Regions from separate parts of the Homo sapiens genome. Here region 2 is linked to region 1. Evidence: fine-mapped expression QTL. Tissue or cell type: whole blood. Region 1 holds a variant in brackets; the other region holds the start of a gene. All regions are shown on one strand. Distances are between the middles of the regions.

Evidence for each region. PIP is the estimated chance that this variant, and not a neighbour inherited with it, causes the effect.
Region 2: RPLP0 starts here. The variant in region 1 is fine-mapped to the expression of RPLP0 in whole blood (INTERVAL, PIP 0.96).

What each region holds. Positions count from the first base shown.
Region 1 is chr12:120,144,631-120,152,733 of GRCh38, reverse strand. GCN1 (GCN1 activator of EIF2AK4) reads left to right here. Exons shown (of 58, transcript NM_006836.2): 34 at 1,343-1,589; 35 at 2,691-2,812; 36 at 3,014-3,128; 37 at 4,388-4,567; 38 at 5,462-5,682; 39 at 7,404-7,472; 40 at 7,673-7,811; 41 at 7,899-8,095. Among named protein-coding and RNA genes, the nearest start is that of MIR4498, 6.8 kb to the left of the region's middle. The variant A/CA (reference allele first, on the strand shown) is at 3,637.
Region 2 is chr12:120,196,224-120,204,326 of GRCh38, reverse strand. It overlaps RPLP0 (ribosomal protein lateral stalk subunit P0), which reads left to right and starts at 3,216. Exons shown (of 8, transcript NM_001002.4): 1 at 3,216-3,244; 2 at 3,496-3,597; 3 at 4,842-5,017; 4 at 5,122-5,209; 5 at 5,327-5,473; 6 at 5,588-5,773; 7 at 6,865-7,005; 8 at 7,393-7,628. The coding sequence starts at 3,544. The coding sequence ends at 7,554. PXN-AS1 (PXN antisense RNA 1) reads right to left here and starts at 3,036. Exons shown (of 4, transcript NR_038924.1): 1 at 2,901-3,036. RefSeq lists enhancers at 2,701-3,060, 3,461-3,530, 4,571-5,512, 5,632-6,131.

The sequences.
Region 1 (8,103 bases):
ATTTCTTTTTCTTTGTTTTGAAAAACACGCATGTATGTATATATAAATATATATATATTTATATATATATATTTTGTGTGTGTGTGTGTGTGTGTGCGCGTGTGTGTGTGGTTTGCATTTTGGACCACTTAGAGTGTCTTCATAAAGTGAACAGTTGGGCTGGGCGTGGTGGCTCATGCCTATAATCCCAGTGCTTTAGGAGGCTACAGGTGCGTTTTAATGTAGCCTCTAAGCTACAGTGCAAATAAATTTCTTTTTCTTTGTTTTGAAAAACACGCATGTATATATATATAAATATATATATATTTATATATATATATTTTGTGTGTGTGTGTGTGTGTGTGCGCGTGTGTGTGTGGTTTGCATTTTGGACCACTTAGAGTGTCTTCATAAAGTGAACAGTTGGGCTGGGCGTGGTGGCTCATGCCTATAATCCCAGTGCTTTAGGAGGCTGAGGTGGGAGGATTGCTTAAGGCCAGTAGTTCGAGACCAGCCTGGGCAACATAGTGAGATCCTGTCTCTACAAAAACTTTAAAAATTAGCCAGAGGTGGAGGCCATGCCTGTGTTCCTAGCTACTCAGGAGACCGAGGCAATAGGATTGCTTGAGTCCAGGAATTCAAGGTTATAGTGAATTATGATTGTGCCACTGCACTGTAGCCTGGGTGACAGAGTAAGACCCTATTTCTAAAAACAAAAACAAAAAACAACAAAAAACTTTACCAAAAAAATGCACAGTTGAAAACCAGTTTCCAAAATTGTGGTCAAATATGGTGTCAGAAAGCCTAAGCAGCAAAAGAGTCGCACCTGGGCACCTGCCAGCATGGCCTCGGGGTTGCTGCTCCCAAGCTGGGCTTAGTGAGCTGCGGCTGGGAGGCAGGATTGAGTGTCTTTTGGTTCCACTCAATTTGTGCCTGGTCCTATAAGGCCCTGCCCAATTTCTCTGTGATTTTGACAAGTTTGGAAACAGAGACACGGGCTGTTTTTATGGAGGCAAAGCAGCACACTTCTCTGGAAGCTTTCTTTCTGAGTGGATTTAGTCTTTAGAGTCCCTTCCTTGGTCCCCTGCCCCACTGCCCAGGCCTAGGTTTTCCATTTAGACCAGAAATGGCACCATATGGGCCAAAGCTTTTGTCGTCAGCAGATTGTAGTGTGCACCCTCAGAGGTATACAACACTGTGTATACCTGTTTGCTTCTCTGGTGCCCTGTGACATCCGCAGGCAGTGGCTGAGATGGGGCTTGGGACATCTAGTGGTGGGTGCTGTGTAGAATGGTCAGACCCCCCACCAACCATGAAACGGCTGCAGCGGAGCCACAGCATTGACAGGTGGGCCCTTCCCCAGGTCCAGGAGTCCGTAGCCAGCTGCTTGCCACCCCTTGTGCCAGCCATCAAGGAGGATGCTGGAGGGATGATCCAGAGGCTTATGCAGCAGCTGCTGGAGTCAGACAAGTACGCAGAGCGCAAAGGGGCCGCCTATGGCCTGGCGGGCCTGGTGAAGGGCCTGGGCATCCTCTCGCTGAAGCAACAGGAGATGATGGCGGCACTGACTGATGCCATCCAAGATAAGAAGAACTTCCGCCGGCGAGAGGGTGAGCATCTCTGAGCTTGGGGCTGCCCAGCATGGGAAGTTGGTCCCCAGGTTGCCAGAGGAAGGAATCTGACCGTGGCGCCCCAGGTGGAGGCCGTTGCTTGTGCGTGTACTACAGAGGGCCCCGCTGTGTGCGACCCAGTCCAGCTGCGTCCTTGCTGCTTTCCTTGGACTTGCAAATTTTTTTTTCTTTTCTGTTTTTTTTTTTTGAGACGGAGTCTCGCTCTGTCGCCCAGGCTAGAGTGCAGTGGCGTGATCTTGGCTCACTGCAAGCTCAGCCTCCTGGGTTCATGCCATTCTCCTGCCTTAGCCTCCCAAGTAGCTGGGACCACAGGCGCCCGCCACCACGCCCGGCTAATTTTTTGTATTTTTAGTAGAGGCGGGGTTTCACCGTGTTAGCCAGGATGGTCTCGATCTCCTGACCTCGTGATCTGTCCGCCTCAGCCTCCCAAAGTGCTGGGATTACAGGCATGAACCACCGCGCCCGGCCACAAATTTCTAACTCAGCAACACCCTTAGCTGAGAGAGGTTTGGCTTTTCTTTCTTTCTTTCTTTCTTTTTTTTTTGAGATGGAGTCCCACTCTGTCTCCAGGCACAATCTCGGCTCACTGCAATCTTCACCTCCTGGGTTCAAGCAATTCTCCTACCTCAGCCACCCTAGTAGCTGGGGTTACAGGTGCCCACCACCATACCCAGCTAATTTTTGTATTTTTAGTAGAGACAGGGTTTCACCATGTTGGCCAAGATGGTCTCTATTTCCTGACCTCGTGATCTGCCTGCCTCAGCCTCCCAAAGTGTTGGGATTATGGGTGTGAGCCACCGCGCCCGGCCAAGGTTTGGCTTTTTTAACTGTTAGTGCCAAGAAGTGAAGGTGGCTCCCCTGTGCTGTCCTCCCTTTCGCTCAGCCACATTCCTTTGCTGGGGCTTCTTGAGCTGAGGCAGAGGGTGCTGCCTCCTCATGGGGCATCTACTAGTTCCACAGCTGTTTCTGAGTGTTTCCAGAGGGGTGGGAGGTGGCAGGGAGGTTGCTGTCCCTTCTGTTCTCTGTGGCTACCCCCAGGGGACATTCTCTTCCCAGCCGTCCCACCTTCTTTTCCCCTAGGAGCCCTCTTTGCCTTCGAGATGCTCTGCACCATGCTGGGGAAACTTTTTGAGCCGTATGTGGTTCACGTGCTGCCCCATCTGCTCCTGTGCTTTGGGGATGGAAACCAGTATGTGCGTGAGGTAAGTCCCCGGACTGCTCGGGAGAACAGCATGGAAACTTTATGAGATGTGTTCCCAGCTGTGTCTGCAGGCCTTGGCACAGGGTCTGACATAATAGAACCCCAGTAAGCGTTGGTTATAGGAGGAACGCTAGGACTGGTGTCAGGCCTTGCCCCTTGCTTGGGTGAGGAGGCCCCTGAATGTGTTTTCTCCCCCCTTGAGGCTGCAGATGACTGTGCCAAGGCTGTGATGAGCAACTTGAGTGCTCACGGGGTGAAGCTGGTGCTCCCCTCCTTACTGGCTGCCCTGGAGGAGGAATCGTGGCGGACCAAAGCTGGTAAGACCACTCGCTCTGCCTCTCTTCCCAGCTTCCTGTTATGAAAACCAGCCTCAGCAAGGATCCTGGGTAGCCACAGCTCTTGTCCTGTGAGCTCCCCAGACCAGGGATAGGGTTAAGACTCTGCCTTTTTAAAAATTTGAGATGGAGTCTTGCTCTATCACCCAGGCTGGTCTTTACCTTTGGGGCTCAAACCATTCTCACAGGAGCATGCCACTACACCTGGCTAATTTTTGTATTTTTTTTTGTAATGATGGAGTCTCGCTATGTTGCCCAGACTGGCCTTGAATTCCTGGGTTCAAGTGACCCTCCTGCCTTGGCCTCCCAAAGCACTGGGATTGCAGGTGTGAGTCACCACGCCTGGCCAGCTCTCCCTCTGGCAGTTGGATCTTTCTATAGTTTATGTGCTTTCATGCCAAGAAACAGGTCTCTGACAAGAGCCACAACCCTAAGTCAGGATATCCTAAAGCTCTAAAGCTCCTCTTTGGCTTTAAAGTTTTCCCCCCCC[A/CA]GGAAAGCTCTTTTTGAAAATAACCTTAGGCAGGAGAATCTCTTGAGGGCAGGAATTTAGACCAGCCTGGGCAATATAGCAAGACCCTACCTCTACCAAAAAAAAAAAAAATAGGCCAAGTGTGGTGGTGCATGCCTGTAGTCCCAGCTACTCAGGAGGCTGAAGTGGAAGGATCACTTGAGCCCTGGAGTTTGGGGCTGCAGCGAGCTATAATCTTGCCACCACACTCCAACCTGGGCAGCAGCGTGAGACCCTGTCTCAAAAATAAATAAATAAAATGTCTGGCACCCTAATAAGCAAACAGATAAAAGTAGAGCTGCTCTAGTTGGGGGAGGATCACCATCTAAGGCCCTCCCACTCAACCTCCTTCTCAGTCCTTCAGGCTTCACCCTGTAGTTTGAAACAACACAAATCTAAATCAGTTTCCTCATTTGTGGATGAAGAAACAGTTCAGAGAAATTCAGTGAATTGGCCTTGGATCTCACTGTAAGGATTAAACCAGGTCTTACCTATCCTGGTCTCTTTCTCCCATACTGCCCTGCCTCTCACCTGGGATCCCACTGTTCAGCAGGCCACAAGAGCTTTTTCGACCCCTCTGCTAGAGCCAGCCCCCTCTCCCCTCCTCCCAGTGACTGCTTGAGCACCGTCTGCAGGGGCCAGGGTAGATGTCCCTTGCTCATGTAGCCAGCACAGGTGAGTTGCTGGCCTTTGCTCAGTGATTCAGTACTGGGCTTGTGTCTGCTATCCACAGGGTCAGTGGAGCTTCTTGGGGCAATGGCGTACTGTGCTCCTAAGCAGCTGTCATCCTGTCTACCCAACATTGTGCCCAAGCTTACGGAGGTGCTGACCGACTCCCATGTCAAAGTCCAGAAGGCTGGACAGCAGGCGCTCAGGCAGATCGGCTCCGTTATCAGGAACCCGGAGATCCTGGGTAGGCCTTTCCCGTGAGGGTGCTTGCCCTGACCTCCCACCAACGCCGCAGCCTTTGGACACTGCAGGGAACTTGCACCCATTCAGCTAAGATCTTTGCCTCCGAGGACAAATATGTTCACAGTGAAATAGGGACACTGAGTCATTGGCTCAGGAGCAGTTTGACTCCAAGAGATCCCTGTGCACTAAGCTGAGCATGAGGTCAACAGAACTGAATGACATTATCTGGACCACATCAGCACCATTCAAAATGTTAGGACCTGTGAAAACTTGCTATTCCATCTCATTCCAGGAGGCCTTTGATAGAGGGGAGGGTTAAGGAAGGGTTAGGATTAACCTGACTACTCTGGATGTGGTTCTTTCTCAAGTACTGGGAAGAGGTCGATCGCTAGGAACAAAACCCAGCCAGCCACCTTGACCAGCATGTCACTTGTTAAATTCTAAGCTTCAGCTGCCAGTGCCCAGTCAGTACTTCAGTCTGGAAAGTGGAATAACCTCAAAATACATAAAACAAAATTTATAAAGCTATAGGGAAAAGTTAACAAATACATTATATCATAGTGGGAGATTTCAACACACTTCTCCATTACCGATAGGCAAACCAGAAATTTACTAAGGATACATGCTTTTCAAAAATTTTATTTCTGTGGCTCATGCCTGTAATCCAGCGCTTTGGGAGGCTGAGGCGGGCGGATCACCTGAGGTCAGGAGTTGGAGTGAAACAAGGATTGCTCTTTGTGGGTTTCCTGTCTTCCCCAGCTGGTGACTTGTGGGGTTTCAGGGAGGAGGTGTGCCAGACTCCCTTCTCTTCTGATCCATTCTAGTTCTGGGGGCCCAGGGGCCTTGCAGCTGCATAGATGTATATCATCCAGCTCTCTTCTCTTTGGATGTGCAGCCATTGCTCCAGTCCTCCTGGATGCCCTGACGGATCCCTCCAGGAAGACCCAGAAGTGCTTGCAGACCCTGCTGGACACCAAGTTTGTCCACTTCATTGATGCCCCATCCCTGGCCCTCATCATGCCCATTGTCCAGAGAGCCTTCCAGGACCGTTCCACGGACACGCGGAAGATGGCAGCCCAGATTATTGGCAACATGTACTCCCTGACAGACCAGAAGGTAGCGGCCCAGCTGAGGCTAGTGTGGGATAGACCAGAAGATGTTTGAGTGCAGAGTCAGAGGTGCAGAGTCCCCACATTAGACATGGAAAGTTATGGACGTTAGTCCCTAATTATTTTTATGGGGAGAAATGAGCCATTTTGTGGTGGAAATCCGGGCTCTCTGGGCATCTTAGCGCAGTGGTTCAAGTCCTTCTTAGTTCTCAGCTGAGGCCCAGAAAGGCCTGTCTTCTCTTTTGACCTCTCAAGAGTGTTGAAGTGCTTGCCACTTTGACTACTTGCTCTTGACAAGAATACTCCTGTATTGTTGTCAGGAGAGCCTGGTTTGGGAGATTTTGTTTGTTTGTTTGTTTGCTCCCAAGAGCTTGCATGTGTGATCTCACTGTCTGCCTTAGGAGCTCACATGTGTGGTCTCACTGTCTGCCATAGCTCTGCTTTGCTTACTGAGGCTATGGGCAAAAAAAATATATAAAAGTTATATTAATCCTAGAAAATTTGGGAAATTAAAAAACCAGAAAAACAGACCAGGCTTGGTGGCTAATGCTTGTAATCCCAGGACTTTGGGATGCTGAAATGGGAGGATAGCTTGAGCCCAGGAGGTTGAGGATACAGTGAGCCGTGATAATACCGCCGTGATAATACCACCGCACTCCAGCCTGGGGTGACAGAGCAAGACCCTGTCTTAAAAAGTAAATTAATTAATTAAAAAAATTAGAAAACCAAAATATTTTATCTACAGTTCCCCACCACGAAAATAATTACTGTTAATTTTTTTTTTTTTTTTTTTGAGATGGAGTCTTGCTCTGTTGCCAGGCTGGAGTGCACTGAATCAGTCTCGGCTCACTGCAACCTCTGCCGCCTGGGTTCAAGCGATTCTCCTGCCTCAGCCTCCCGAGTAGCTGGGATTACAGCCGCCCACCACCATGCCTGGCTAATTTTTGTATTTTTAGTAGAGACAGGGTGAAACCATGTTGGCCAGGCTGGTCTCGAACTCCTGACCTCAGGTGATCCACCCGCCTCGACTTCCCAAAGTGCTGGAATTATAGGCGTGAACCACCGTGCCCGGCCAATTACTGTTAATTTTTAAAATTACATTTAAAAATGGCATTCCTAAACTTAAAACTTATTCCCAAGTTATAACAAGTTATTCACAAAACTGATTTTTAATAGTTACATAATATCTCAACAAGTTTATATACCATAACTTATATAATTCTATCATTGGTCATATAGTGTCCAAGGTTTTTGGCTATTTTAAGTGATGCTGCAGTGAACATAAGGCATTTTCTGTATTTAAAATTATTCCCTAAAGCTGAATGCTCTATCAAAAGACATAAACATTTTGAGATGAAGAAAGGGAAGATGTTAATAAAATTCTGAAAGGAAATTACCAGAAGTAATTTGCTAAAGATTCCAGAGTCTGGACAGGCCTTGGTCCTAAGAGAAGGGTGGGAGGTGCAAGAGCATTGAACTCCTGTTTGTTGAGGATGGGCCTGGGGTCCCTTGTAGGAGTCCCTGAGCAATTGCAGAGGGCCTTGAAGGAACCAGTCGGAGAGGGGACTTACTTGCCCTCCCTGTTCCGTGGGCAGTGAGGTTTGCATGCTAGGTGCCCCTGCCAAGCACTCCTTGCCAGCAGAATGGGGAGGTCAGGGTCCACAGTGGAACAGGCCTGGAGAAAGCAGGAGTCGGGCCTCACCTGAGCCGCCTCCTGTGTTGTTGCAGGACTTGGCTCCGTACCTGCCCAGCGTGACGCCTGGCCTGAAAGCATCGCTTTTGGACCCTGTGCCTGAGGTGAGTCTGAGGTAGGCTGGGGGATGGGCCAGGCCCCTCATCCAGTCCCCATAAATGGATTCCTGAGAATTCCCCAAAGCTGCTTTTGTGTCTGTTGGGTAAAGAGAAAGAGGCCCTCGGTGCCCCTTCCTGCTCCCATGTGGCTACCTTGTTTTGAGCCTCATCTTCTCACACCATCTCTGCTCTCGGTTACCTGACAGGTGCGGACCGTATCTGCAAAGGCCCTTGGGGCCATGGTGAAGGGCATGGGGGAGTCGTGCTTTGAGGACTTGCTGCCGTGGCTGATGGAGACACTGACCTATGAGCAGAGCTCTGTGGATCGCTCAGGCGCTGCACAGGGTAAGGCCAGAGCAGGTCCAGTGGCCAGCCTGGGAATGCTCTAAGGGGCCCTCAGATCCAGTGGACTCATTCTGTCCTTTGTTGCAGGGTTGGCTGAGGTCATGGCCGGTTTGGGGGTGGAGAAGTTGGAGAAGTTGATGCCAGAAATCGTGGCTACAGCCAGCAAAGTGGACATTGCACCCCATGTCCGAGATGGCTACATTATGATGTTTAACTACCTGCCCATCACCTTTGGAGACAAGTTTACTCCTTATGTGGGGCCCATCATCCCCTGTATCCTCAAAGTAGGTAC
Region 2 (8,103 bases), 52 kb before region 1:
ACTGATTTATGGTAGAACAAGATGAGATTGACAGCACTTGAGCTACCCGTATCTAAATTCTGTTCAGGGAATTTTATGCCAGTCAGCTGCACCAATATACCCTGCCATGCAAGTGTCTTGGTTTTAAACCTGCTACCGCCACCACCCCCCGCCCCGCCCACCACTTTACCAAATTATTCATGTTGGCCTGATTTTCTTACTCTTCCATCTTTTCTGGCATTTTTTGGGGTGTGTGTGTGTGTGTGTGTGTGTGTGTGTGTGTGTAGCTGCTTTAGAGACATTCTGCCACCTTTCTGGACTTCGCTCGATCAGGGAGAGTAGGCAGATTGTGATTGGAATCTTTTTTTTTTTTTTTTTTTTTTTGAGACAGAGTCTCTCTCTGTCACCCAGGCTGGAGTGCAGGGGCACAATCTCGGCTCACTGCAAGCTCCGCCTCCCGGGTTCACCCCATTCTCCTGCCTCAGCCTCCCAAGTAGCTGGGATTACAGGCACATGCCACCACGCCCGGCTAGTTTTTTATATTTTTAGTAGAGATGGGGTTTCACTGTGTTAGACAGGATGGTTTCGATCTCCTGACCTCGTGATCCGCCCACCTCAGCCTCCCAAAGTGCTGGGATTACAGGCGTGAGCCACCGCACCTGGAGTGATTGGAATCTTAATAACCTGTCAAAACAGCATTTAAATCTCATTCATGTTATTTTCCATCCTTCCCATGGAACACAGATAGCCAAGAAGACAAATAAAAGAGACCCCAGGCCAGGCACAGTGGCTCACGCCTGTAATCCCAGCACTTTGGGAGGCTGAGCTGGGTGGATCACCTGAGGTCAGGAGTTCGAGACCAGCATGACCAAAATGGAAAAACCCCGTATCTACTAAAAATACAAAATTAGCCGGGCATGGTGGCACATGCCTATAATCCCAGCTACTCAGGAGGCTGTGGCAGGAGAATCACTTGAACCCGGGAGGTGGAGGTTGTGGTGAGCCGAGATTACGCCATTGCACTCTACCCTGGGCAACAAGAGTGAAATTCTGTCTCAAAAAAAAAAAAAAAAAAAGAAAAGAAAAGAAAAAAGAAAAGAAAAAGAAATACAGTAACGTGAAATCGAGCTACTTCTAACTTTTTTTTTTTTTTTTGAGACGGAATCTTGCTCTGTCACCTAGGCTGGAGTACAGTGGCGCAATCTCAGCTCACTGCAACCTCTGCCTCCTGGGCTCAAGCAATTCTCCTGCCTCAGCCTCCCAAGTAGCTGGAATTACAGGAGCCCGCCACCACTCCTGGCTAACTTTTGGTATTTTTTAGTAGAGACGGGGTTTCACTGTGTTAGCCAGGATGGTCTGGATCTCCTGACCTCGTGATCTGCCCACCTCAGCCTCCCAAAGTGCTGGGATTACAGGCATGAGCCCCCGCACCCGGCCTACTTCTGACAGTTTTATGGTGTGTGATATAGGATATAACATGATGTATGAAGCTCTTTGTAATAATTTTTAATTTTGAAATAGCTGATTCTTTGGGGATCATTTAATACATAATTCCATAGGTTTCAGTGAAAAAAAAAAAAAAAAAGAGATCTCAGGGTTGGGCAAGGTGTCTCATTCTTGTAATCCCAGCAATTTAGGAGGCCAGGGTGGGAGGATTGCTTGAGCCCAGAAGTTTGACATCAGCCTAGGCAACATGGCAAGACCCCATCTATACAAAAAGTACAAAAAATTAGCTTGGCGTGGTGGTGTGTGCCTGTAGTCCTAGCTACTTGGGAGGCTGAGGTGGGAGGATCACTTCAGCCTGGGAGGTCAAGTCTGCAATGAACTGAGATTGCTCCACTACACTCTAGCCTGGGCAACGGAGTGAGACTGCTTCTCAAAAAAAAAAAAAAAAAAAAAAAAAAAAAAAAAAGATTTGATGGAGGTGAATTATTCTATGGATGTTTGTTGGCTAGTTTTCTAGGAAGAGGGAATGGCTAATGCAAAAGCCCCCAAGTAAAGCCTGCTCTGGAAAAGCAGCAGAGCATCATCTGGGTAGAAAGCAAGTAAGTGAGGAGGAAAACATCTGAGATGATCAGAGTGGGCGTGAGGGACAGATAGGTAAGGGCCTTGTAGGTACTTTAGGTTTTAGATTTTTACTCTGTAGGAAACGGAAAGTTTTAAGCAGATAAGGAGATGAGCTGACTTAGGTTTTTTTTTTTTTTTTTTTTTTTTTGAGATGGAGTCCCTCTCTGTCACCCAGGCTAGAGTGCAATGGTGTGATCTTAGCTCACTGCAGAGCTCACAGCTCCCGGGTTCAAGCGATTCTTCTGCCTCGGCCTCCTGAGTAGCTGGGATTACGGGCATGCGCCACCCCACCTGGCTAATTTTTGTATTTTTAGTAGAGACGGGGTTTTGCCATGTTGGCCAGGCTAGTCTCGAACTCCTGACCTCAGGTGATCCACCCGCCTCGTCCTCCCGAAGTGCTGGGAGTATAGGCGTGAGCCACCGCGCCCGGCCAGGTTTTAAAGGATCCCTCTGTTTTGGTAGGCGGAAAAACTAGAGAAGACGAGAGACCATTCTGAGGCCGGGCGCGGCGGGTCACGCCTGTAATCCCAGCACTTTGGGAGGCCGAGGCGGGCAGATCACGAGGTCAGGAGATCGAGACCATCCTGGAGAACATGATGAAACCCCGTCTCTACTAAAAATACAAAAAAAAAATTAGCCGAGCACGGTGGCGGGCGCCTGTAGTCCCAGCTACTCCGGAGGCTGAGGCAGGAGAATGGCGTGAACCCGGGAGGCGGAGCTTGCAGTCAGCCGAGATGGCGCCACTGCGCTCCAGCCTGGGCGACAGAGCGACACTCCGTCTCAAAAAAAAAAAAAAAAAGAGAAACCATTCTGTTTCTAAGCATGTGCAATTATGTCTCAGCTCCACGTCATACCTTTTAGTTTGCTGAGCTCGCCAGGTGGCACAGGGAACCGGGACTCCGAATTCGCAGCTCCAGCTCCAGCTCCAGCCCAGCAGGTGGCAGCAGCTCAGAGCAAGCTCCTCCAACGCGAGGCAGCGCCTTCCTTCGCGACCCTACTTAAAGGCGGCTTTCCGTTGGCTGGAGTGGCAGCGATATTATCCAATGGTTGCCTGTATTCGTTCAGCTTTGTCTGACGGGCGATGGCGCAGCCAATAGACAGGAGCGCTATCCGCGGTTTCTGATTGGCTACTTTGTTCGCATTATAAAAGGCACGCGCGGGCGCGAGGCCCTTCTCTCGCCAGGCGTCCTCGTGGAAGGTTCGTGTGCTAGTTAGATGGGCGCCAGGGGTCGCCGGCGGGAAGCATGGAGGGGTCTTTGGGGGCCTTTGGGAACATGGAGTCCTATTCTGTTCCGCCTGGGGCCTCGGTGGCGGCTTGCACGCCCCGAGATGACGGCCGCTGCCCTAGGCAGGGCCGGCGGGCGATTGCGCGTGTCCTGCTCCTCTTAGGCCCGGGACCGCGGGATGGGTGTCGGCGTGACCAGGCCTGAGCTCCCTGTCTCTCCTCAGTGACATCGTCTTTAAACCCTGCGTGGCAATCCCTGACGCACCGCCGTGATGCCCAGGGAAGACAGGGCGACCTGGAAGTCCAACTACTTCCTTAAGATCATCGTAAGTGCAGGGTGGGTCGCCTCTGCTCTTCATGTTGCCCCAGCGCAAATAGGGACAGTCAGCTGCTATGTGCTGAGGGTCTACTCACACCGGCTACTGAATTAGGCCATTTTTGGGAAAATACTGTTTAGTTAACAATTTCCTGAGATAGGTCCCTTCTGTTGCAGATAAACGGGCTCAGGCAAGTTAAGTGGGTCCTAAGATGACAGCATTCGTATCCAGGTCTGTCTGGCTTCTAAAAGAGCGCGCTTTATACTTTTTTTTTTTTAAACGGAGTCTCGCTCTGTTGTCCAGGCTGGAGTGCAGTGGCTTGATCTTGGCTTACTGCAACCTCCGCTTCCCAGGTTCAAGCGATTCTCCTGCTTCAGCCTCCCGAGTAGCTGGGATTACAGGGGCGCGACACCACACCCAGCTAATTTTTGTATTTTCAATAGAGACAGGGATTCACCATGTTGGCCAGGATGGTCTCGATCTCTTGACTTCATGATCCACCTTCCTCGGCCTCCCTAAGTGCTAGGATTACAGGTGTGAGCCACCGCGCCCGGCCGCACATTACAGTTTTACTCCATTTTTGAGAAGGTCTGAGGTCAGGAATGACTCATTGTAAGGAAGCAAGCTGTTGCATATTTAGGACCTGTCAGCCAAGAAACTTAAGTGTCCAATGACTTTTGGATGGCCTTTGAGGTGGGTCTCCCTTGCCCAGAAATGCTGACTGTACTGCGCTTAAGCAATTAGGCAGCATTGTAGAGCATAGCTTGTATTACATTTTCCCACACTTAGAAGGTTTTCAGACACAAAACCCAAAGGAATTGTGTAACAATCCGGATAAACACGCCTAGATTGTTTTTACAAATAATAATGTTGCTATATTTGCTTAACGTGGTGCTTTTAATGCTGTGAATCTAGCCCTCCTCTTGACCAACTTACTTGGAACATTCCTTTTTTATCCTGTTAACCATTTTAGTGAATCAGAAGCATGCCTGGTAATTGGGAAAAATTAAAAACTAAGTAAAAAAAGAAAAAACTCCTTGATTGAATGTAGAAACCTAATTTTCAGCGTTCATACCCAGCTAGCCAATCATCCAGTTTGGCAGTGTTACAACGTAGCTCCCAATCTCCCTCTGACTTCAAAAGCTTAGAAGAAAGGGAGTGGGATGGAAACAAATTGTGGGGTTCAGTTTCTTCTGGCATTTTTTCCCTCTCTCTTCCTGTTAAACTTGGCTCCTCTGGCTTGTTTTTTGTAGCAACTATTGGATGATTATCCGAAATGTTTCATTGTGGGAGCAGACAATGTGGGCTCCAAGCAGATGCAGCAGATCCGCATGTCCCTTCGCGGGAAGGCTGTGGTGCTGATGGGCAAGAACACCATGATGCGCAAGGCCATCCGAGGGCACCTGGAAAACAACCCAGCTCTGGAGAAGTCAGTTCCCCTGGCAGTTTTGTCCTTTCTCCCCAGTGCCCGTCTCCCTCTTCCTGGAGAATGGTGCTGAAAGGTGATTGTCTCCCATAAACTTCTCTTTGCAGACTGCTGCCTCATATCCGGGGGAATGTGGGCTTTGTGTTCACCAAGGAGGACCTCACTGAGATCAGGGACATGTTGCTGGCCAATAAGGTAAGGGGACAATTGGGTTGGCTAAAGAGACTTTGTTGTTGCTCCTTAAAGCAAAATGGACCATTCTCAGGTTGTGTGAGTGGAGAGGCTTTTCTCACTGTTTGTTGTCTTTGTCAGGTGCCAGCTGCTGCCCGTGCTGGTGCCATTGCCCCATGTGAAGTCACTGTGCCAGCCCAGAACACTGGTCTCGGGCCCGAGAAGACCTCCTTTTTCCAGGCTTTAGGTATCACCACTAAAATCTCCAGGGGCACCATTGAAATCCTGGTGAGTGGACCTGGTTTGCCTGTGCTAACCAGGCAAATGGGGAGCTGCTTTTAGTGGCCATGGATCTGCTGGTTGTCCAACAGGTGTTTACTGCCCCACTATTATCTGGTTCAGAGTGATGTGCAGCTGATCAAGACTGGAGACAAAGTGGGAGCCAGCGAAGCCACGCTGCTGAACATGCTCAACATCTCCCCCTTCTCCTTTGGGCTGGTCATCCAGCAGGTGTTCGACAATGGCAGCATCTACAACCCTGAAGTGCTTGATATCACAGAGGAAACTCTGCATTCTCGCTTCCTGGAGGTATATGCTGTCAGCCTTGCCCCCTCTTACACTGATGGTTGAGAGCATGACAAGGTTCAGACTGAGTCCCTGTAACCAAGGACTGTGTTTTCATCTGTCTACCTACCTCATCTGTAAAATGTCAGTAACAACATAAGATTGTTGAAGGATTTTTTTTTTTTTTTTTTGGAGACAGAGTCTTGCTGTGTCGCCCAGGCTGGAGTGCAGTGGCACAATCTCCCGGCTCACTGCAAGCTCCGCCTCCGGGTTCACACCATTCTCCTGCCTCAGCCTCCTGAGTAGCTGGGACTACAGGCACCCGCCACTACGCCCGGCTAATTTTTTTGTATTTTTAGGTTTCACCGCGTTAGCCAGGATGGTGTCGATCTCCTGACCTCGTGATCCGCCCAACTCGGCCTCCCAAAGTGCTGGGATTACAGGCATGAGCCACCACGCCTGGCCAAAGGATTTAATGAATTAATGGATGTACAGTGCTGGGGCTGTTATTCTAGGGCCTGCATTGAGACTCACATTTTGCCATCAAAAGCCTTTTAAGAGGTGGAGGTTGCGGTGAGCTGACATGGTGCCACTGCACTCCGGCCTGAGTGACAGAGTGAGACTCTGTCTCACAAAAAAAATAATGCCCTTTAAATAATGAATAATAGTGATAGAAAATGTCATTTCTTGGACAAATGAAAAATTGAAATTAATGTATATAATTAGATATTATTAGCTACTCTTAGGTAGCTTCATTTGTTGAAAGTTTGACAAGTGAATGAAGTTCACATCTGGAAATCGTTGAACATTTTTCGTTCATGGAACTCAATGGCTACGTTAGTCGTTTATGCTTTTCACTGTTGTGGTAGGGGCTTTGGAAGTAAATGCCATCAACAATGGATACAGAAGACCTGGATTTGGAATAAGGGCAAAATTTATTTGATGGGGCTGAATTGCTCTGCCAGGAGCATTTGGTATGAGATGAAATGGCCTCTCTTGAGACTGAGCTGCCAACCTGGCAATTATTGTCTGCTAAGGGTTCTCTTTATTCACCCTTACTTGGACTTCCTTTCCTGTAGGGAATCTCACGTAAAATGAAATCTTCCCTCCCCCAGGGTGTCCGCAATGTTGCCAGTGTCTGTCTGCAGATTGGCTACCCAACTGTTGCATCAGTACCCCATTCTATCATCAACGGGTACAAACGAGTCCTGGCCTTGTCTGTGGAGACGGATTACACCTTCCCACTTGCTGAAAAGGTAAAAGGATCCCACCAGGACCACAGTGGGCCTGACTGTGACAAATTAGCAGGGTGATGTGGCCTTCTACCTTACTGCTTTTATAGTTGTATTTTATATAGCAGATAATTTTGTGAGGGGATATTTGAGAGGTTGGGAGGCAGGGAAGGCGTTTCTCACTTGAGAAATGACAAGAGACCCAAAGAGGGGGTTAATGGGCAAGAGCTGGGCCTTAGGAACCCTGCCTCACTAGGCCATACCCAAGCTGTCCTGCTTGGGCTGCTTCTGACAGGAAAGGCTTCACACGGACTTTGATATTGTTGGTCCTTAAACTCTACCAAGGCAGGAGGGTGGTGGGTAATAGAGGAGTGTGGATGACCATTTTGACCACTTCCCCCCTCCTTTCAGGTCAAGGCCTTCTTGGCTGATCCATCTGCCTTTGTGGCTGCTGCCCCTGTGGCTGCTGCCACCACAGCTGCTCCTGCTGCTGCTGCAGCCCCAGCTAAGGTTGAAGCCAAGGAAGAGTCGGAGGAGTCGGACGAGGATATGGGATTTGGTCTCTTTGACTAATCACCAAAAAGCAACCAACTTAGCCAGTTTTATTTGCAAAACAAGGAAATAAAGGCTTACTTCTTTAAAAAGTCTCTGGACTCTTAATTTTGTAATTTTTTTTCCTTTTTGACACAGGGTCTGGCTGTTGCCCAGGCTGGAGTGTGGTGGTGTAATCATAACTCACTGCACCCTTGAACTCCTGGGATCAAGGGATCCTCGTATCTCAGCCTCCCAAGTAGCTGGGACTACAGGCACACACCATGACACTCAGCTACTAATTTTTAAATTTTTTTTTTGTAGAGATATTGCACAAGCTGGTCTCAAATTCCTGGCCTCAAGGAATCCTGCCTCAGCCTCCCAAAGTGCTAGGATTACAGGCTTGAGCCACCATGTGCCTGGCCCTTAATTTTGAGGTTTATAGTGCCATATGCTAGAAACGAAAGCCATGGTAAAACCAGAGCTTTGTATTTAGGTGTTGATGTTTGGGTATCTAAATGAAGCTACCAATCAAACATCCTATACAGTTTTCTAGACACAGTTGTAACTATTACACTAGAATTACTGTTT